Linked DNA regions of Homo sapiens: region 2 is linked to region 1. Evidence: fine-mapped expression QTL. A gene starts in region 1. The other region holds a variant in brackets. All regions are shown on one strand. Distances are from middle to middle. Region 1 holds the start of ADIRF-AS1 (ADIRF antisense RNA 1). Region 2 overlaps MMRN2 (multimerin 2).

Region 1 (10,459 bases):
TCCAGCCTGGGCAACAGTGCAAGACCTGGTCTAAAAAAAGAAAGAAGGAAAGAAAGAAAGAAAAACACTATGGGGATTCCTCAAAAAATTAAATATAGAGCTAACTTATGATCCAACAATCTGTCTTCTGGGTATATATGTATATGTATACATACACCACACATACACAGGTACATACACACACACACACACACACACATATATATACACACACACATATATATACACACACATATATATACACACACATATATACACACACACACACATACATATATACTTTTTTTTTTTTTTTGAGATAGGATCTCACTCTGCCACTCAGGCTGGAGTGCAGTAGCGCAATCATGGCTCACTGCAGCCTTCAACTCCTGGGCTCAAGGGATCCTCCCACTTCAGCCTTCTTAAGTAGCTGGGACTACAGGCGTGCACCACCACACCTGGATACTTTTCCTATTTTTTGTAGAGATGGGGTATCACTGTCACCCAGTCTGATCTAAAACTCCCGAGCTCAAGCTATCCTCCCACCTCAGCCTCCCAAAGTGCTGGGATTACAGGCCTGAGCTACCACGCCCAGCCTTGAATTAGTATTCAAAGGGCAAACTGCACACCAGGCAACAATGAACCAGAGCCATAATCATTGAGACAAACTCTAGAAAAATTATTGTACTTTAAACTTAAAGAAAGAAAACAAGCCAGAAATATCATGTTGCTTATTAGAAATTCCTGCAGGAGTCTGGACACAGTGGCTCACACCCGTAATCCCAGTGCTGTGGGGAGGCTGAGGTGGGAGGATCACTTGAGCTCAGGAGTTTGACATCAGCCTGGACAACATAGTGAGACTCCACCTCTACAAAAAAAAATTTGTTTTAATTAGCTGAGCATGGTGGCACACACCTGTAATCCCAGCTACTTGGGAGGCTGAGGTAGGAGGATTGCTTGAGGCCAGGAGTTTGAGGCTGCAGGGAGCCATGATCAGGCCACTGCACTCCAATCTGGGTGACAGAGCCAGACCCTCCCTGTCTCTACAAAAAAAAATTCCAGTAGGGAGCTGGTGCAGCGGCTCACACCTGTAATCCCAGCCCTTTGTTAGGCCAAGGTGGGAGGACTGCTTGAGGCCAAGAGTTTGAGACCAGCCTGGGGAACATAGTGAGACCCCCATCTCAAAATAAATAATAAATTAAAATTAAAAATAAAAAAAGAAATTTCAGTGTGCATCAGACATGTAGGGTCTGCTCAACCTTCTGTGCCAGAAGGCAGTTGCAGCCACACCTAGAAGACACTGAAGCTGAAGAGGGAGCCACAAACCTCAAACCCAGCCAGGGATAAAGTCTAAAGGCTACAGACTAACAATACCAACCAAACATTTAAAAATCAGAATACTGTTCACATAAGCCCTTCTTTTTATAAAATTTTTATTTTAACTTTTTTACCGTTTTAAAAATAGAAAATGTCATACACAAAAATAGAATATAATGGGCCGGGCACGGTGGCTCCCGACTGTAATCCCAGCACTTCAGGAGGCTGAGGTGGGAGGATCACCTGAGGTCAGGAGTTCGAGACCAGTCTGGCCAACATAGTGAAACCCTGTCTGTACTAAAAATACAAAAATTAGCCAGGCATGGTGGCACATGCCTGCAATCCCAGCTACAGGCATGAGCTGAGACAGGAGGCTGAGACAGGAGAATCGCCTGAACCCAGGAGACGGAGGCTGCAGTGAGCCGACATCATGCCAGTGCACTCCAGCCTGGGCAACAGAGGAAGACTCTGTCTCAAAAAAATAAATAAATAAATAAATAAATATATATATATATATAAATAAAATGAACCCTCATGGACCCATTACCCAGTTATAGAAATTATTAACTCAGATATCAGATGTCTTATCTCTGTAAACATTTATCATCTTTAACTATTTCATTCTTGAGAAGACTCTGGGCTGGGTGCGGTGGCTCACACCTGTACTTCCAGCACTTTGGGAGGCCAAGGCTGATGGATCACCTAAGATCAGGTATTTGAGACCAGCCTGGCCAAAATGGTGAAACCCCATCTCTACTAAAAATACAAAAATTAGCCAGGCGTGGTGGCAGGCACCTGTAATCCCAGCTATTCCGGAAGCTGAGGCAGAAGAACTGCTTGAACCTGGGAGGTGGAGGTTGCAGTGAGCGGACACTGTGCCACTGCACTCCTGCCTGGGTAACAGGAGTGATACTCTGTCTCAAAAAAAAAAGAGAGAGAGAGAGAGAGAGAGAAGACTCTGCAGGACTAATTCTAACCAACCAAGAGATAGCAGAAAATATTCAGCAGAAGGAATGGCAAACAGCTTTTAATATCTTCAATTGCAGATCCAAGACAAAAACAAAGGTGTGGTTCAGGGCTGAGGAATGGAATGCAACTCTACGTGTTTTCACAATGTAGAAATGGGACAAGTAACATTTTTTAAAAAGGCGGCGGAGGGAGAGAAGGGGAGAGGAGGTGAAAGTGGAAGAATCTGCACCCTGCCTCATGTGTAGTCTGATGGGGGTCAAAGCTGAGAACTCCAGCGGTAGACGTTTGGGAGATTACATACAAAGAAGCTCATCCTACGGACTGAAAATGGGGATGAAGAAGAAGAGGGAGGAAGGAACGCCATCCAGAGAAAATGGTTTAAGGGAACACCTCCACCTGAAAATGCAGTCATTTGTAAGTGGAACCACAATGTAATGTTAGTGACTGTGTGTTTGGCTAGATGGGGAACTGGAATTTGGAGAATTAGGAATTATGTGTGGCATTGCTAATGGAAGAATTGATCTCTGGAGGACTGACTGACACCCAATAGGTGTAGTGTGGCCACAATCCTTCCTCCTCAGCCAGTCTGGGCTGTACTTGCTCCATGAACCTGGTGGAGACAGGCCTGGGCAGTATAAGCTCCCAAGGGCTCCTCTGGTGAAGCTGTCCTCACAGGGTTAACAAGCATTCTACACAGAAATATAGTTATAATTAAGCATTAACAGTTATAATTAAAAATTAACAGTTATAATTAAGCATTAATGAGGCTGTGCTTTAACTAAATTCCTTCTATAGAACTTCCCGTGGCACTGTATACTGACCATCTGCATCCCCACTGTTCCCACAGTTCGGCTTTCTGATGTTAGAATCATAGGCTTTTGTTTAGGAATTCCTTAAAACGTTTTTTTCGTTTGTTTTTTCAGTTTTTTTTTTTCCGAGACAGAGTCTCACTCTGTCGCCCAGGCTGGAGTGCAGCGGCACCATCTTGGCTCAGCAACCTCCACCTCCCAGGTTCAAGCAATTCTCCTGCCTCAGCCTCCCAAGTAACTGGGATTACAGGCGCACGCCACCAAACCCGACTAATTTTTGTATTTTTAGTAGAGACAGGGTTTCACTATGTGGCCAGGCTGGTCTCGAACTCCTAACGTCAGATGATCCGCCCACCTTGGCCTTCAGAGTACTGGGAAAACAGGAATGAGCCACCGCATCCAGCCTAAAATGTTTTTCAGATTCCAAATTCCAGTGAAACAAGTGACCCCAACCAGTTTGAACAGCCCAGAAGAACATAATCAGCATGAGAATACAGTTTTTTCATCTCCCTGGCCCCATGACTTCACTCCGCACTCTTCAACAAATCAACAATCTCCACACTTTGGCCTGCTCTAAAACTCTTAAGAACCCTAACCCCAAACTTCTCGGAGAGAGATTTGAGGTTTTCTCCCATCTTGTCTGGCAGCCCTGCGACTAAACCTCTTTCTTCTGCTGCAACCCGGTGTTTCGGGTGTATGGACTTGCCCTGCCATCAGGCAAGGGACCTATTACAGAGACACTGGCTCTGTGCCCTCTGTGTCCCAGACATGGTTCAAAAGGCAAGTCCCACCTGGCCCTGCCCTCCAGGGCTCCTAGTGTCGGGGGAGCAGAGGCACACAGGAACAGGCAATTGCACAGCGCCACCGGAGCACCAGCTCCATGGGGCTGGGGCAATGTGGAAGGGGCTGCATTGCAGAGATGGTTCCATGGTAAACCTGAAAATGAGAACTCACTGTCATCCATCAGGAGAACAAAAGGATGGTCCTCCATGCAATCATTTAGCCAGTGCTGCCTGAGCACCGCAGAAGACACAGAGCATGCACTAAAAAGGGACTGGTTACAGCCCCATGAACCACCACTATGGAGAAGCACACATGAAGGCTCATTGTGACTCTAAAAAGGAGGTACAGGGGGTGTGAGAATGTGTCACCAGGGGCCTGATGCATATTGTGTGTGTGTGTGTGTGTGTGTGTGTGTGTCGGCACACCCAAGGCCGCTGAGACCTGACGTTTGGAAGAGCAATAGGCAAGGGTGATTTATGGAGAGTATGCCAGGCAGAAAATGCCGCAGGTGTGAAGATACCGAGGCAGCAGGAGCATGATGGGAAGGTCAAGGTGGCTGAGATGGAAGGGAGGGGGTGTTGTGGGAACAGGCTGGAGGTCTGGGAGGCTCTGCCCTCATCAGCAGGTGGGCTTTTCCTTAGACTTGTTCCTCAGACTTGTTCCTCCTGTGGTTCCAAGTGGCTGGTTCTAGGGTTCCTTTCCAGCCACAAGGTGTCCAGAGGAAGATGAAGGGCGGCTTTTTTTTTTTTTTCTGAGACAGGGTCTCACTCTGTTGCCCAGACTGAGTGCAGCGGTCCTCGACCTCCCGGTCTCAAGTCATTCTCCCGCCTCAGCCTCCCAAAGTGCTGGGATTACAGGCTGAGCCACCATGCCCCGCCTTCAAGACAAGAAAAGCCTTTTCTAGAAGACTCCTGGCCTCAGGCCTGATCTCTCTCCTTGGCCGCACCTGGGTCGCACTTAAGGCGATCACTCACAAGGAGAACAAGTGAAAAGTCCCTTGGGATTCATCCCTGAGTCATAGGGGAATGATGCACACCAGAAGGATGCTGGGCTCTGCCAGTCCAGCCCCACCAGCCTCCTGGAGTGGCCCTGAGGCCGGCTCTCCAGACCCTAGGACCTGCTCCTGGAGGCAGGGGCTCCTGGAAGCGCCCCTGACACTGCTCCGGGTGTCTCTTCAAGGACTTTCCCACATTCTACAAAGAAACCTTTTGGGGACAGTCAGCAACATGTAACCGATAGTGGAACCAGGGCAGCCCTGGGTTAAGGGTGGTAGACACGTGCCCCGCGAGGGAGATCTCAGACTGGAGAAGGGAACGGCCTCCTAGGCAGACCTGTACTGCAGCATCTGGACTGGCAGCCAGGTTGGGGACTTCGTCCCCTGCTGGGAGGCCGGGGAAGGCAGGGAGCGCGCCTTGAGTCCGCTGACTAAATCGCCTCAGAACTGGGAAGCACCGCGTAGTCGGTACCTTTCAACAGAAACGCAGAGGCCACTGGCGCGCAGGAGGAGGCGACTGCAGGTGGAGGTAGTACCGGGGTAAAGACATGGAGCGGGTGGACGGGAACCGCTAGGGGCCCGCTGGGGCGTGAGGGGCGCGGGGAGGAAAGGGCCGCAGCAGCCCACGCCCCGCGCCAGGGCCAGGCCTCATCCGGCGCTCAACCAGTGCCACGTTGAGTCACCTACTGGCAAGGCATACACCGTACCGGGGCCACACGCGTGGACACGTGCCGGGGGGGTGCTGGGAACACCAGTCCATCCGGAACCCACTAGACAAAACCTTCCAGGGCCGGAGGTTACCGGTTTGTCCCGAAAGGAAGTGGTGTGGAAGGGAGGGGTCTCCCGCACGCGAGCGCGCACGTGCATGCCCCCCCCACAACCGTGCTTCGTTCTCACGTGCACGGCCCCGTGCCCCGAAGCCCCTCCCCGGGGAGTGGCGGGGCGGGACCCCGCCGGGCGGCAGCGCCCCACTCAACAAAGCTTCCCGCGGGCCCTGCCCCATGACTCACCGCTGGGTGGGGCGGGCACGCAGGCAACCCGCGGGCCGAGACGGGGTAGTGAGGGCCGGAAGCCCGGCTCCCGACTCCGCTTCGTCCCCACAACCTCCGGCCGCCTGAAGTCCTGAGGGGCCGTGGCCCTGGGTCGTCTCCCCTGTTCCCAGCCTCCAGTCGCAGCTGGCGGAGAGAAGTTCCCGAGGCCCCCCCGACTTGCAAGGTCCCTTGCCCCGCCCAGAGCTGAGCCTTCCGAGGATCTGAGGACCGAGTCCAGCCCAGCTCCCAGGAGGGGCCGGGATCCTGGGGCAGGGAATAAGGGGCAGGGGCTGGCTCTAAAGTCGGGCGGGAGAGGGGCACTAACCGAGATGGGGGCTGAGCCTCCGGTCTGGGAGCTTCGGGAGGCGCGTGGCGGGATGGAAAACATTCCTGAGACCGTTGGATTGGATTTCCGAATTTGGGAGGCTAGGACTCCGGCTACGGTGGCTCTGCTCTTGGGATGAGAGGACTGGGCCCAGCTTGCGAGGAATCATGAAGTGGACACAGGGTGGGAACGTGAATTTTAATGAGGGGGCAGACCGAGGAGGTGGTGGCTGCCCGGAGATCAGGGCCAGGCTGTGCTAGATGGCGCCTGGAAGGGGGGTCACCCAAGTCTCCCTGCTGTCATTTCAGGAGGCCGACCCAAGTCTCCCTGCTGTCATTTCAGGAGGCCGAATTTTTTCCCAATCCCAGAGAAGGTGTCAGAGGCCTGGTTAGCAGTCTTGTCGATGGTTTCCTGGGTGGTCTTGGCCAGCTGGTCCATGGCTGGGGAAGGGCGGGAGAGAGGGCAGGTCAGGCAGGGCCCGGGAACCACAGTGCCTGTAGGCTTAGCCTGGCCTGGGTCTCCCGGGGGACCTGCTTGGGGCATTGTGGACAGAGGGCTCTGCAGAGGAGAGGATGTGCCTGGGCCCCAGCCGGGATGGGGCGGGGAGTGGGAGGTGTGCTGGGGTTGCCCGCCTCCCTCCAGCCCCACCAGACCTTTCTGCCCCGCCTCTGTGGCCTGGTCCACCACTTGCTGAGCTGCCGCTCCGGCCGCTGACACTGGAACAGAGAGATGTGGCTTTTAGCCCCTGTTGAGGCACCACCGACTACAGGTGCCCCACCATTGCCATGCCTCTGTGTCCTCCAGAGTATTCGGTGGTACAGGTCCAAGGGATGGATGCCATGGAGATAAAGTCCCTGGCCCAGGGCCCCCCAGCCCGAGGGGCAGGAGACCTTTCCATGCCTCTGGGATGTTTTTGTTTATTTCTAACTCTGAGCTCCTTCTCTGTGGGGGAGGAGCTTCCCTTTCCATCTCCAGGGCTACTGAGAAAATGTTGGACAGAGGAAGGAAGGCAGGGCAGGGCCAGGCTGCAGCTAGCATCTGGACTGTTGGCTAATGCTGGTGATGGCGCAGAAGACCCTTGCCCCCTTTTACAGCTTCTCCCCTAGAAGCCTGGCCCAGATGCCTGAATTCCCACCTTTCATGCACTTAGCCCTGGGGCTTGCAGTTTTGCCAGGTCCTTACTGCCTCCTCCCTCCTGTGGCCTGCCCGGAGGGGCACACAAGCAAAGCCAGTGCCTCTGTGGACAGGCAGCTTAAGACATTAGGAGACAAATGAAGGAAGGAGGCAAAACTTCCAAGGCCGGACTATCTCCTCTGGACCAGAGTTTCGGCCTGCTGGGAATGGAGTCACCAGCCCCGGGGGGGCTGACAGGTGGCTCCCGCCTACAGAGCTGTAACTCATCCCTGCTGCTGAACAGGAAAGGGCCTGCCTTACCCAGATCCCATCCTCCGGAAAGGGTTAGTCAGGCAAGTGTGCTGAGAGGCCCCTGGGAACCTCGTCTCGATTAACCCATCAGAAAGCAGCCCATCCTTTGCACCCAGCTCTCAGATGGAAAAGTGAAGCCCAGAAGGAAGGGACCTGACACGGAGGCTTCCTTGGTAGCATTTCAGTCTCAAGGGAAGAACTGTGGGCCTCCCCTGGAGCACTGGTGAAGTAAGGGGTTGGTTTGGATATTGTCTCCTGACTGGGATATGGGCAGGACTGACAGGGAGCTGGAGTCCTAACGAAGCCTGGGCTAGGTGCAGGAAGAACCAACCCAGTGGTCTCCTGACATCTCCCACGCCCCCACCGCAGCTGGGTCACCTCCAGAATACGGAGGAGAGAGCTGGAGGTGGAGGAACTAAGGACCTTCTTTGCCAGGTGGGGACTTAAAGGTAAGGCGACGATTACTTTTCGGCGATGGGGGTGGGATGGAAACAAAGCCCTTTGAGGTCTGGGGCAGCCTCTGGTGGCGCGCGCGGGTTTAAGTGGTGGCGGGCCGCGCCCGATCCCTGTCCTGGACCTTCACCCTCTCCTGAGGGCCTGGGCGGGCCGCCCAGCGCCAGCATGGCCTCCTTGGAGGGGCTCCCGCAGTGCCCGCAGCGCAGCTCCGGCTCCTCCGGAGCCTCTGTTCCGCTGCCTCCCTGCGGGCACCATCTGTCTGCTCGCCGGGGTGGGCGTTCTGCCTGCCCCCTGCGTCTCAGTGGAGGACCGAGCCTTCCGAGCCAAGCTGCCGGTCCAGGAACTTGCGGACCGCGCCGACCCGCTGCTTCTGCCTGCGCATCCACGCAGGTGCCCCTGCCTGAGCCCTAGGTCGCGCGCTATCCTCACCGGCTTCCTGGGCGGTCCCCTCCACCTGTTGCTTCAGGTCCTGCAAGCCCTTGCTTGCCATGGCTTCGGGGTATCTGTGGAGTCGTCAAGAGCAGCTGGAGCGACGTTGGATCCTGCCCAGAGTGGCGATGCCAAGCGCCAGCTCCGGTTTTTAAGGCGCCCCAGGGCTGGCCTGCCCCGCGTAGGGGAGAGGGCGCGGGGCGGTTCCCGTCATACAGGCTCCGGGGAGTGGCCGGGCCCTGCTCCAGAGTCCGCAGGGCAGGGAGCACATCCTGGCCTAAGACGGGCCGCGGTGGGAAAGGGGCAGACCGAACCAGGGACCGAAGAGGTGCCAGGACAGGGGTCCAGAGAGGAGCTGGAGGCAGGAGAAGGGCGCACACCACCTCCCAGCTCATCAGCCCCAGCCCTCCCTTTCTGATCCTGGGCGTGAGCGCTGGGTCAGCTCCAGGGCAGGAGCTCAGGGCTGGTGTTGACCTTAATGACAGCAGTGGTCTTTTACTGAGCATTTGTCTTGTGCCAGGTGCTGCCTAACGCTCTGCAGTCTCTTGTATAATCTTTACAACCACCTCCTGAAGTGGGTATTTTTGTTGATAGCATCAGTGTATAGGAGGAAACTGAGGCAGTGAGGTCGGTCTCACCCAAACGCATGTGGCAGGGACTTGGATCCTCGAATCTGCCTAGGTGCCTGTAAACCCTAGGGCTCTGGCATCATCGGAGCCCCCAGCCCCAAACAGCTGCAGGGGCACTGCTGACTGGCTCTCTGCCTGTAGCCAGAGACCCAGTGGATGCAGCCGGAGAGGGCCTGGTAAATCTTTCCCCTGAGAGGGCGAGATACAGGTGTGTGCACTTGCAGACCATGCAACCCCAAGGGGGAGAGGGCAGTGTGCCTGTGCAGCCCAGGCAAGGAGATTGCCGTCTGTCACCGAAGCCTTAGGAAGTTGGGCAGGAAGCATGGCTCAGGGAGGGCAGGAATAAGCTTGGGCCTCTCAGGTCACCTTTCCTGAGATGGGGCAGGCAAGGCGCTAGAGAGTATGACTTGTGGCTGTTAGGAGGGGACTTAGGGACCTGGGCCTGAGTGGAGAAGATCATCCTTGGGTGCAGCAAAACAGCTTGCAAGATACATTCCCCTGGCACACAAGGGGTGTAGGTCAGGCCCCACCCAGCTGGGTATACTCCCACTCCAGAGTAGGCCTTCAGGACCTGGAGGCCAGTGCACACCCACCCTGCCTTTCTGGGTCTCTCTACCGCTTCCTGTCCGGGGCTGTTTCTTGCACCTCTGCTGGTGTCTCCCCTATTCTGGAGCGCTGGGAAGCCCCTGCCACACAGGCTTGGTCTGCTGGCACATACCCTGCTTCTAGTGCTGCGGGGTCAGCCCCTAGAGGGAGTTGTTTGGAAGTGCACCTGTACACACACACACACACACACACACACACACACACACACACACACACACACGGTATGGATTAATGGAGATGAGGTCAACCCTGGGCAAAGGGAAGAGGCAGGTGATGAGATTAGGTGGAGGAAGGGGGAGGGAGCAGGTCTCAGGCAAAACAAAGCGGCAGCAACAGTCCTCCCAGCCCCCCGCCCCTCCTCTCCCAGAGCGAGGCCTTGCCCTGGGAGCGGCCATATGGATGCCTTGGGGACTCTGGGGAGCCCATCTCAGCCATGCCCTGCCTGGCTGGCCACAGCCCTGCCAGCCCTCCTGAAATCCCACCGGTAGTGCCCAATAGCCAGGCAGGCCTTCGAGTGTTCCAGTTTATCACAGGCTGGTGGTGCCACTGGGCTCCAGGCCCCATGGGCAATGAGCTGTGAGCTGGACAGGAAGGGAGCAGCCTCTGTGGGAAGAGACAGCCAGCCCCCAGCAGATGGTGGTAGAGAGAGCTCCACGTGGCCCTAGCGGCAGGCACTACAGTCAAACCTCTTGGGTTCAGATATTCTT
Region 2 (10,459 bases), 25 kb after region 1:
TTGCCCAGTCTTGTCTGAAACTCCTGCATTCAAGTGATCCTCCTGCCTGGGCCTCCCAAAGTGCTGGGATTACAGGCATGAGTCACTGTGTCCAGGTTCCAAACTGTTCTTGATTATTCATCTGCATTTTCTCTTCCTGATGAAAATGATTTTTTTTTTAAGTTTCATTTTTATTAGTTATATATACTCATAGGCAGGGGTCAGAAAACTATGGCCAGTGGGCCAAATCCAGCCCATCACCTGTTTTTGCTAACAAAGTTTTATTGGAGCACAGACAGGCTGGTTCATTTATATGTTGTCATTGACTTCTTTTGTGGTACAATGGCAGAGTTGAGTAGATGGGACAGAGTTCATGTGGCCTGGAAAGCCTGAAACCATGGCCAGCATCAGGGGCATGTGACCTGTGCAGTCACACACAAGGCCCTGCACTCTGGAGGGCCCCACCCTGGGTGTCACCATCTTGAAATTCTTCATACTTTTTGAAGGAGAGGCCCCACATATTCATTTTGCACTGGGCCCTGAAGATTATGTAGCTGGCCTTGTGTCAAATATTTACTACCTGTACCCTTAGAAAAAAAGTTTGCTGATCTCCTGATTAGGAGTCAACTGGTTCTATAAGGCTTGTTGAGACAGTCAGAAGCCCCAGCTCCCTCTGGTCCCAAGGGCAATGACTTTCAACTTTGCAGGTGATTCTTTTGCATTTACCTCTGTATCACTAAAGAACATGCTTGCATTGCTACTTCTTAGGAGGTAGCATTATCTTTTTTTTTCTTTGAGATGGAGTTTCACTCTTGTTGCCCAGGCTGGAGTGCAATGGCGTGATCTTGGCTCACTGCAACCTCCACCTCCCAGATTCAAGCAATTATCCTGCCTCAGCCTCCCGAGTAGCTGGGATGGAAGTAGCATTATCTATGAGCTAGATCTCATTCCTACCCCAAAGCAAATGCATGTGCACGCATCCATAGGGCCATGTGTACTGCTCAGCATTAAGCCTTGAAATAAACTGTGAAACTTTTTTGCCCCCTTGCACACTTTTGGTTTTCCCTGTAGTAAAAATTTAGAACTCACAGAGTTCTAAAATTTCATGTCTTGCTTTTTTCTTCTGCTTATTCTGTGTCTTTATCACTAACTCAACTCCACACCCTCAGCCAGTTGTCCACATCTGCTCTCTACACTCATTCATGCCAGGTGTCAGATCAGCTGCATCTTCTTGGAGATGTGGCTCCCAGAGCCTCCAGGTGTGTTCCAATGTGAACTGCTGCCCTCATACCACAGCCCATTGTCATTCTGGAGGCTCTCTTCACCTGGTTTTTGTGTTGGAACCTGTTTCCTGATCTTGTGCTTTCTCTTTCTTGATTTTCTCTGTTGTTTTGTTAGAGTGTTTCCTGTGACACCACGGTTCTGCATCCTGGGTGTGCCATGCAATTACCCAGAGAGCCTTAAAATGCTGGTGCTCAGGCCCTAAGCTCAGGGGATCTAGGAGACTATTATTTTTCTTTCTTTTTATTATTATTATTATTTTTGAGACGGAGTCTCTCACTGTCACCCAGGCTGGAGTGCAATGGTGTGATCTTGGCCCACCACAACCTCTGCCTCCCGGGTCAAGCGATTCTTCTGCCTCAGCCTCCCAAGTAGCTAGGATAATTAGGAGATTATGCCCAGATAATTTTTTGTATTTTTAGTAGAGACAGGGTGTCACTATGTTGGCCAGGCTGGTCACAAACTCCTGACGTCGTGATCCGCCTGCTTCGGCCTCCCAAAGTGCTGGGATTACAGGCATGAGCCACCGTACCCGGCCTCTTTTTATTATTTTTTGTATTTTTTGTAGAGATGAAGTCTCACTATATTGCCCAGGCTGGTCTCAAATTCCTAGTCTCAAGCAGTCTTCCTGCCTCGGCCTCCCAGTGTTGGGATGATCGTCATGAGCCACTGCACCTGGCCCAAGACTATTATTATTATTATTATTATCATTATTATTATTATTATTGAGACGGAGTCTCGCTCTGTCACCCAGGCTGGAGTGCAGTGGTACAGTCTCCACTCACTGCAACCTCTGCCTTCCGGGTTCAAGTGATTCTCCTGCCTCAGTCTCCCGAGTAGCTGGGATTACAGGCGTGCACCACCATGCCCGGCTAATATTTGTATTTTTAGTGGAGACAAGGTTTTGCCATGTTTGCCAGGCTGGTCTGGAACCCCTGACCTCAAGTGATCCACCTGCCTTGGCCTCCCAAAGTGCTGGAATTACAGGCATGAGCCACCACACCCAGCCCCAAGACTATTATTTTTAAAGTGTCACACAATGGTTTTGTTTTTGGGTGTCTTTTTTTTTTTTTGAGATGGGGTCTCACTATGTCTCCAGGCTGATCTCAAACTCCAGGCCTCAAGCAGTTCTCCCACCTCAGTCACTTGAGTATCTGGGATTACAGGTGCAAGCCACCACACCTGGCTTGCATGATGGTGTTGATGTGCAGGCAATATTTCAAACCACTGCTCATCAGGTAGTCTCCTACTGGGATACATGGGAGGTAAATGTTCTGAAACCTGGGTTGTTTGAAAATGTCTTTATTCTCACTCCCCACACTGGTTCATAGTTAGGCTGGATATGAGATTCTGGGTTGTAAATTATTTTTCTTCAGTATTTTGAATGCAATTTTCACTGTGTTCCAGTTTCCAATATTGCTGTTGAGAGGTTCAAAGCCATTCCAATTACTGATTTTGTATGAGTGTGTTTGTCTTGGTTTTCCTCTCTGGAAGCACGTAGAAACCATCTTTGTTCCCAGAGTTCTAAAATTTCATATGACATGTTTTGATGTAAGTGTATTTTCATCATATTGCAGGTAACTGGTGGTGCTTTTAATCTGGAAATTGAAGTCCTTAACTTCTGGAATATGTTTTTTGTTTGTTGTTGAGACAAGGTCTCGCTCTTTTGCTCAGGCTGGAGTCCAGTGGCGCAATCATAGCTCACTGAAGCCTCAACCTCCTGGGCTCACGGGACCCTTCCACCTCAGCCATCTGAGGAGCTGGGACTACAGGTGTACATCACCACACCTGGCTAATTTTTTAATTTTTTTGTGGAGATTGAGATCTTGCCATGTTGCTCAGGCTGGTCTCGAACTCCTGAGCTCAAGTGATCCTCCTGCCTCAACCTCCCAAAATACTGGGATTACAGGCATGAGCCACCATGCCCGGCCTGATTTTTTTTCATTGATGATTTTCTCCATCTGTTCTCTCTTTCTGAAATTTGTACTACTTGGATGTTACATTTGCAAGACTGGTCGTCTATTTTTCTTTTCTCTTTCCAATTTTCATCTCTCTGTTTGCTCTTTTAGGGAAATTTCTTTAACTTTACCCTCTAACGTTTCCATTAAATTTATTTTCATTTTTACTGTTACGTTTTTAATTTCCAAGAGTTCCTTTTTGTTTTCTGAATGCTCACGCTTCCTCTCCCATCTCCCCCTCATTTGTTTTTTTCATAGCTTCCTGGTCTTGTTTCTTGGGTGCAGTAATTTCTTTTATCAACCTGGAAATCTTAGTACAAATGTTTGAGTGGTTCTCTTCTCCTTACACAGTCTTAGTTTTTGTCCAGGTTGACATTTTTTTGTTTGCCCACTTCAACCTCTTTTTTTTTTTTTTTTTTTGAGATAGGGTTTTGCTGTGCACCCAGGCTGAAGTGTAGTGGCATAATCATGGCTCACTGCAGCCTCAAACTTCTGGGCTCAAGCAATCCTCCTACCTCAGCCTCCTGAATAGCTGGGACTACAGGCATGCGCCACCACACCTGGCTAATTTTTTGTAGGGATGAGGTCTCACTACGTTGCACAGGCTGGACTCAAACTCCTGGGCTCCAAGGATCCTCCCACCTCAGCCTCCCAAAGTGCTGGGGTTACAGGCGTGCGCCACTGTACCTGGCCCTCTTTTGGAATACAGTGTTTCTTGGGTAAATCTTGGATGTCTGCTCACTTAAGAGGAGAAAGACTGAGAAACTGACTGGAAGCTGGGGTGTATGAATACTCCTTTCTTACCCATTTTGTCATAGGATCTTCTGGTTGGCTATTTTTATGGGAGAACCCCTGCTGTCAGCAGCTTTGGGTCTTTTCCTCTCGGGCTGGCTTATTTTCCTGAGAAACTTTTCCAGTCTGC[TG/G]CTGAGAGGGTAAAGCAGGCTGGGGACTCAGCACTCAAAATATGGTCACTCGGCTGGGTACAGTGGCTCACGCCTGTAATCCCAGCACTTTGGGAGGCTGAGGCAGGTGGATCACGAGGTCAGGAGTTTAAGACCAGCCTGGCCAACATAGTGAAACCCCGTCTCTACTAAAAATACAAAAAAAATTAGCCAGGCTTGGTGGTGGGCACCTGTAATCCCAGCCCACTTGGGAGGCTGAGGCAAGGAGAATCGCTTGAACCTGGGAGGTGGAGGTTGCAGCAAGCCGAGATTGCACCACTGCACTCCAGCCCAAGCGACAGTGCGAGACTCCGTCTCAAAAAAAAAAAAGTCACTCGAATCCCCCGCCCCTGCCTTTCCCAACACTATCCCCTGTGTGACAGTGCTTGATGGCCCCAGGACAAAGACCGGCTCCAGAGAATAAAATCCCGGCACTGACAGCCACTTCATCACCAAGGCCTCTGAATGCTGCTTTCTAAGAGCCCACAAATGTGGCCACTTCTCCCATGTCCACCATCACTCAGTCCAAGTTGCCATCATCTCTCCCCAGACCGTGGACACAGCTGCCAACGTCTTGCCCTCCCATCATCTCTGCACCCAGGGACCAGGGTGGCTCTTTCATGCCACTTCCCTGCTGAAACCCCTCCATGATTTCCCATGCCCTCAGGACATGGGCCAGCTCCTCCGCTGAGGTCTGGCTTCTCCCTTCATCCCAGCCTCCTTCTGCAGCCCCTTCCTCACCCTCTTGCACCCCTGTCACATCTGGTGCCTCATCCGACTTTCTGGCCTTAAGACACAGCCCCATTAGCTCCTTCTCCTGAAAGTCTCTGCAGATCCTAGCACTTCTCACCCATTCTAAGAGTGCCCGCTCTCCCTGGGGATCCTGAAGGGAAAGTCTGCACCTCCACATCCACACCCTGAGCTTGAGTGCAGCACCCGGCACCCAAGAGGTGCTGAGCTGTACTGTGCCACAGAGATCATTGCCACTTTCAACTCTGACGAGCTCTGTTCTGGGAGCTGGCTGCCTGGGGAAGGGCTCTCTGACCACTGCCACTGACCCCATGGAGTCAGCCACTGGGTCTGTGAACTGGGGCTCTGTCAGCATGAGTGTCCCCCCGCTCCTGGGACCACCACAGTACATGCTGGTGAAGGGCCAGGATGGAAGGGCTACCTATCAGGTGTGCGGGATGCTGAGTGTGACCCCCAACCACCTTGCATGACCTTGATGCGGTGGCCATCCCAGAGAGGACACTGCTCCACCCAGCTGCTTACCTTTCCTTAGGACAACTGTTTGAAAGTCCCTTTCTAGAATGGTCCTAATGGGCATGGCCAGGGAGCTGGTCCCTCATGTAAGTAGCAACTGGGCAGGCTGCCAGGGCAGCTGGAATGGGGCAGTGGAGCTGTGTTCACAGAACGCTTGTCAGGAGCCAGGCACCTGGTGCTTCTCTGCCCACTTAAAGGAGGGCATTACGATCGCCATTGTATAGATGGGGAAAGAGAAGCTCCCTAAGTGCCTCACTCAGGGTCACACAGCCAGAAAGTGTGAGGGATTCGAACCCAGGATTCTCCAGCCCCAGCTGCACGTTGGTAGCAGGAGAAACAGCGAGAGCTTTCTGGCTCTGTGGCTAACCTCACCAAAGGGAATCCATGCAGACAGCTGCAGTGCACACGGTGTTTTCCCCACACTCTGGCTGTTAGTTTTGTTGGCTAAAACAATCATCACCCTGGAGCTGCTTTTCACAGTTCTAGATTGTGGTGGGTTTCTCAGCCTCTCTGCTGGCTCGGGGAGGCTTCGGGAAGGTGGTGGAGCAGGTGCCCTCTTTGCAGGTAGGGATTGTGAAACATTTGCTCTGGAGCCCAGGGATGAATAATGCGGAAGGCTCTCTTCTCAGGATAATGGATTCCAGAATCCCAGCACTGCTCCGGCAGGAGGCGAGGACCGGTGGCTCTGCACTGGCACCCCCTGTTGACCTGGGTGTGGCTCAGCAGCCTTCTCCTCTGGCTTGTTTTCCAGTAACTGGTGCCCCTACCCAATGTCCAAGCTGGTCACCTTACTAGCTCTTTGCAAAACAGAGAAATTCCTCATCCACTCGCAGCAGCCGTGTCCGCAGGGAGCTCCAGACTGCCAGAAAGTCAAAGTCATGTGAGTAGGGGAGGGTGGGCCATTTGCCCAGGCCTGGAGCGGGCCCTCCCTGGAATCACTGAGCCAGCCCTTCTCCTCTTCCAGGTACCGCATGGCCCACAAGCCAGTGTACCAGGTCAAGCAGAAGGTGCTGACCTCTTTGGCCTGGAGGTGCTGCCCTGGCTACACGGGCCCCAACTGCGAGCACCACGGTAGGGCTCCCTGCGGCCCCCTTCCCCCCTTGACCTCTGATCCCCAAGGTCAAGCAGCTCCTCTGACCACTGGGGTCAATAACTAATGCTTTCTTCTGCAGATTCCATGGCAATCCCTGAGCCTGCAGATCCTGGTGACAGCCACCAGGAACCTCAGGATGGACCAGTCAGCTTCAAACCTGGTGTGTTGCTTTCCGGAAGGGGAAGGCAGGCAGGCTGGTGGGGCCCATGTAGCCAGCTGGCCCTTTTTCCTGTGATACAGCAGTGCCATTTCAGGGAAACCTTGCCTCCAGAATCAGCAAGGCCTGCTCTGTGGCCTGTACCACCTCCCACCTTGAAGGCCAGGCTCACAGGGCCCCCAGCGGCCTACTGGCCAAGCACACACACCCTTTTCCTTCACCCCATCTTCTGGGAAGGACTGGTTCATCTGGCACTTTCCTTGCCCCGCTGAACCACACAAGCCCTTGTGCCTGGAAAAAGCATTCTCACCCTTTCCCACAGCCCTAACCAGAGCCAGGAAGTCATGCTGTCCTTGGTCTTGGAGTCAGCACAGGAAACCCACCAAGAGACACCATTTGCAGCAGGGCCCTTTAAGGCTGGGCCCAAGATTGAGAAAGTAAATGAGTTTCATTATGTGGTGAAGTATTTATTGACAAGGGCTGCCAAGAATGAAGTTGTGAGGCCATGTGCATGTGCTGAGGAGGGGAGTGTACCATGATTGATTAGTCATGTCTGCTGTAGGTGTAGGAGGCAGGGTGAGGGCTCACTTGCTATGCATTTGCCCTCCAGGGGTTTAAGGCTTCTAAGCTCCTGCTCAGAGGACATCAGCAGCTAACTTCCCTGCTCTCAGCCTTCAACTCTCCTTCTCTGAACCTTGTGATCTTCCCAGGCCTGGTGAGTTAGCCCTTGACATTTATGTCTGCTGTGTATTTAGGCCACCTTGCTGCAGTGATCAATGAGGTTGAGGTGCAACAGGAACAGCAGGAACATCTGCTGGGAGATCTCCAGAATGATGTGCACCGGGTGGCAGACAGCCTGCCAGGCCTGTGGAAAGCCCTGCCTGGTAACCTCACAGCTGCAGTGATGGAAGCAAATCAAACAGGGCACGGTGAGTGGCAGGCTCTAGGGGCTGAGGAAGAGCCTGGTCACATTGAGGGGAGGAGGGGAGGACCCCGCTGGTCCCAGCCTGGGAGGAGTGTCTGCTCCTGCAGGGCTTGTGTCACACCACATGTCTGTTGCAGAGTTCCCTGATAGATCCTTGGAGCAGGTGCTGCTACCCCACGTGGACACCTTCCTACAAGTGCATTTCAGCCCCATCTGGAGGAGCTTTAACCAAAGCCTGCACAGCCTTACCCAGGCCATAAGAAACCTGTCTCTTGACGTGGAGGCCAACCGCCAGGCCATCTCCAGAGTCCAGGACAGTGCCGTGGCCAGGGCTGACTTCCAGGAGCTTGGTGCCAAATTTGAGGCCAAGGTCCAGGAGAACACTCAGAGAGTGGGTCAGCTGCGACAGGACGTGGAGGACCGCCTGCACGCCCAGCACTTTACCCTGCACCGCTCGATCTCAGAGCTCCAAGCCGATGTGGACACCAAATTGAAGAGGCTGCACAAGGCTCAGGAGGCCCCAGGGACCAATGGCAGTCTGGTGTTGGCAACGCCTGGGGCTGGGGCAAGGCCTGAGCCGGACAGCCTGCAGGCCAGGCTGGGCCAGCTGCAGAGGAACCTCTCAGAGCTGCACATGACCACGGCCCGCAGGGAGGAGGAGTTGCAGTACACCCTGGAGGACATGAGGGCCACCCTGACCCGGCACGTGGATGAGATCAAGGAACTGTACTCCGAATCGGACGAGACTTTCGATCAGATTAGCAAGGTGGAGCGGCAGGTGGAGGAGCTGCAGGTGAACCACACGGCGCTCCGTGAGCTGCGCGTGATCCTGATGGAGAAGTCTCTGATCATGGAGGAGAACAAGGAGGAGGTGGAGCGGCAGCTCCTGGAGCTCAACCTCACGCTGCAGCACCTGCAGGGTGGCCATGCCGACCTCATCAAGTACGTGAAGGACTGCAATTGCCAGAAGCTCTATTTAGACCTGGACGTCATCCGGGAGGGCCAGAGGGACGCCACGCGTGCCCTGGAGGAGACCCAGGTGAGCCTGGACGAGCGGCGGCAGCTGGACGGCTCCTCCCTGCAGGCCCTGCAGAACGCCGTGGACGCCGTGTCGCTGGCCGTGGACGCGCACAAAGCGGAGGGCGAGCGGGCGCGGGCGGCCACGTCGCGGCTCCGGAGCCAAGTGCAGGCGCTGGATGACGAGGTGGGCGCGCTGAAGGCGGCCGCGGCCGAGGCCCGCCACGAGGTGCGCCAGCTGCACAGCGCCTTCGCCGCCCTGCTGGAGGACGCGCTGCGGCACGAGGCGGTGCTGGCCGCGCTCTTCGGGGAGGAGGTGCTGGAGGAGATGTCTGAGCAGACGCCGGGACCGCTGCCCCTGAGCTACGAGCAGATCCGCGTGGCCCTGCAGGACGCCGCTAGCGGGCTGCAGGAGCAGGCGCTCGGCTGGGACGAGCTGGCCGCCCGAGTGACGGCCCTGGAGCAGGCCTCGGAGCCCCCGCGGCCGGCAGAGCACCTGGAGCCCAGCCACGACGCGGGCCGCGAGGAGGCCGCCACCACCGCCCTGGCCGGGCTGGCGCGGGAGCTCCAGAGCCTGAGCAACGACGTCAAGAATGTCGGGCGGTGCTGCGAGGCCGAGGCCGGGGCCGGGGCCGCCTCCCTCAACGCCTCCCTTCACGGCCTCCACAACGCACTCTTCGCCACTCAGCGCAGCTTGGAGCAGCACCAGCGGCTCTTCCACAGCCTCTTTGGGAACTTCCAAGGGCTCATGGAAGCCAACGTCAGCCTGGACCTGGGGAAGCTGCAGACCATGCTGAGCAGGAAAGGGAAGAAGCAGCAGAAAGACCTGGAAGCTCCCCGGAAGAGGGACAAGAAGGAAGCGGAGCCTTTGGTGGACATACGGGTCACAGGGCCTGTGCCAGGTGCCTTGGGCGCGGCGCTCTGGGAGGCAGGTGAGTTCCTGGGCTGGGGAGACTGGACGAGCCTAGGAGGCCAGGGCCGGCTGCCGGCAGCTCTTCTGCCTCCAAGAGGGCCAGGAAGAAAGAGAACAGGATGGCCATCCGTCACCCCTACTAGGTCCACCTTCCCCTTGGCCCACCTGCTTCTCAGGGGTGTGGGTCTCTCAAGCTACCTGGCTTATGGGGAGACAGAAGTCACAAGAACCACCTGCTAGTGCCAGAGCCCGTGAGCGGCATAGCCTGGAGGCCACAGGCACAATAGTGCCGCCTACTGCTCCTGCTACAGAGAGGGCATCGCCTCCTGCCCTGCCAGGGCAGCCTTCAAGTCCCCCCATCTCATCTCTTCACCTCACCCCCTTCATTCCCATGTGCGTTTAAGCCACTGTATCTAGGAAGAATGTGGATAGGGACTGTGGCCACTTGCAGCCCCACTTAGTTCTGTTTCATTTTCCATGATTTTAGTTTTTTTTTTGTTTTTTTTTTCTTTTTCTTTTCTTTTTTTTTTTTTTTTTAAGATGGGTCTCACTTTGTCGTCCAGGCTTGAGTACAGTGGTGGGATCATGGCTCACTGCAGCCTAGACCTCTCCAGGCTCAGCTGATCCTCCCACTTCAGCCTCCAGAGTAGCTAGGACTTACAGGCATGTGTCACCATGCCTAGCTAATTTTTGTACTTTTTGTAGAGACAGGGTCTTGCTATGGTGCCCAGGCTGGTCTCAAATTCCTGGGATCAAGTAATCTGCCCACCTCAGCCTCCTAAAGTGTTAGGATTACAGGTGTGAGCCATGTGCCCAGCCTTGATTTCAGTTTCTTGCATCAACCACGATCAGAAAATAGGTGAGTACAGTACAATAAGATTTTGAGAGAGGGAGACACCACATTCATATAACTTTTATTACAGTATACTGTT

Evidence for each region. PIP is the estimated chance that this variant, and not a neighbour inherited with it, causes the effect. A credible set is the group of variants that fine-mapping cannot tell apart.
Region 2: its variant is the best candidate, but not a certain one, in a credible set for the expression of ADIRF-AS1 in whole blood (TOPMed, PIP 0.87).

Annotation. Positions count from the first base shown.
Region 1 is chr10:86,966,664-86,977,122 of GRCh38, reverse strand. It overlaps ADIRF-AS1 (ADIRF antisense RNA 1), which reads left to right and starts at 5,883. Exons shown (of 2, transcript NR_170185.1): 1 at 5,883-8,081. It overlaps ADIRF (adipogenesis regulatory factor), which reads right to left and starts at 8,641. Exons shown (of 3, transcript NM_006829.3): 1 at 8,518-8,641; 2 at 6,861-6,923; 3 at 6,208-6,647. The coding sequence starts at 8,578. The coding sequence ends at 6,541. LOC124902474 reads right to left here and starts at 5,718. Exons shown (of 3, transcript XM_047426123.1): 1 at 5,559-5,718; 2 at 3,866-4,010; 3 at 2,308-2,954. The coding sequence starts at 5,718. The coding sequence ends at 2,843. AGAP11 (ArfGAP with GTPase domain, ankyrin repeat and PH domain 11) reads right to left here and starts at 6,787. Exons shown (of 11, transcript NR_171046.1): 1 at 6,208-6,787. RefSeq lists silencers at 5,406-5,955, 7,537-7,831 and enhancers at 5,154-6,353, 6,190-6,941, 6,942-7,695, 9,202-9,954, 9,935-10,114 and 1 more.
Region 2 is chr10:86,941,404-86,951,862 of GRCh38, reverse strand. It overlaps MMRN2 (multimerin 2), which reads left to right. Exons shown (of 7, transcript NM_024756.3): 2 at 6,174-6,302; 3 at 6,387-6,493; 4 at 6,595-6,675; 5 at 7,428-7,601; 6 at 7,735-9,546. Among named protein-coding and RNA genes, the nearest start is that of MMRN2, 11 kb to the left of the region's middle. RefSeq lists an enhancer at 6,646-7,219. The variant TG/G (reference allele first, on the strand shown) is at 4,141.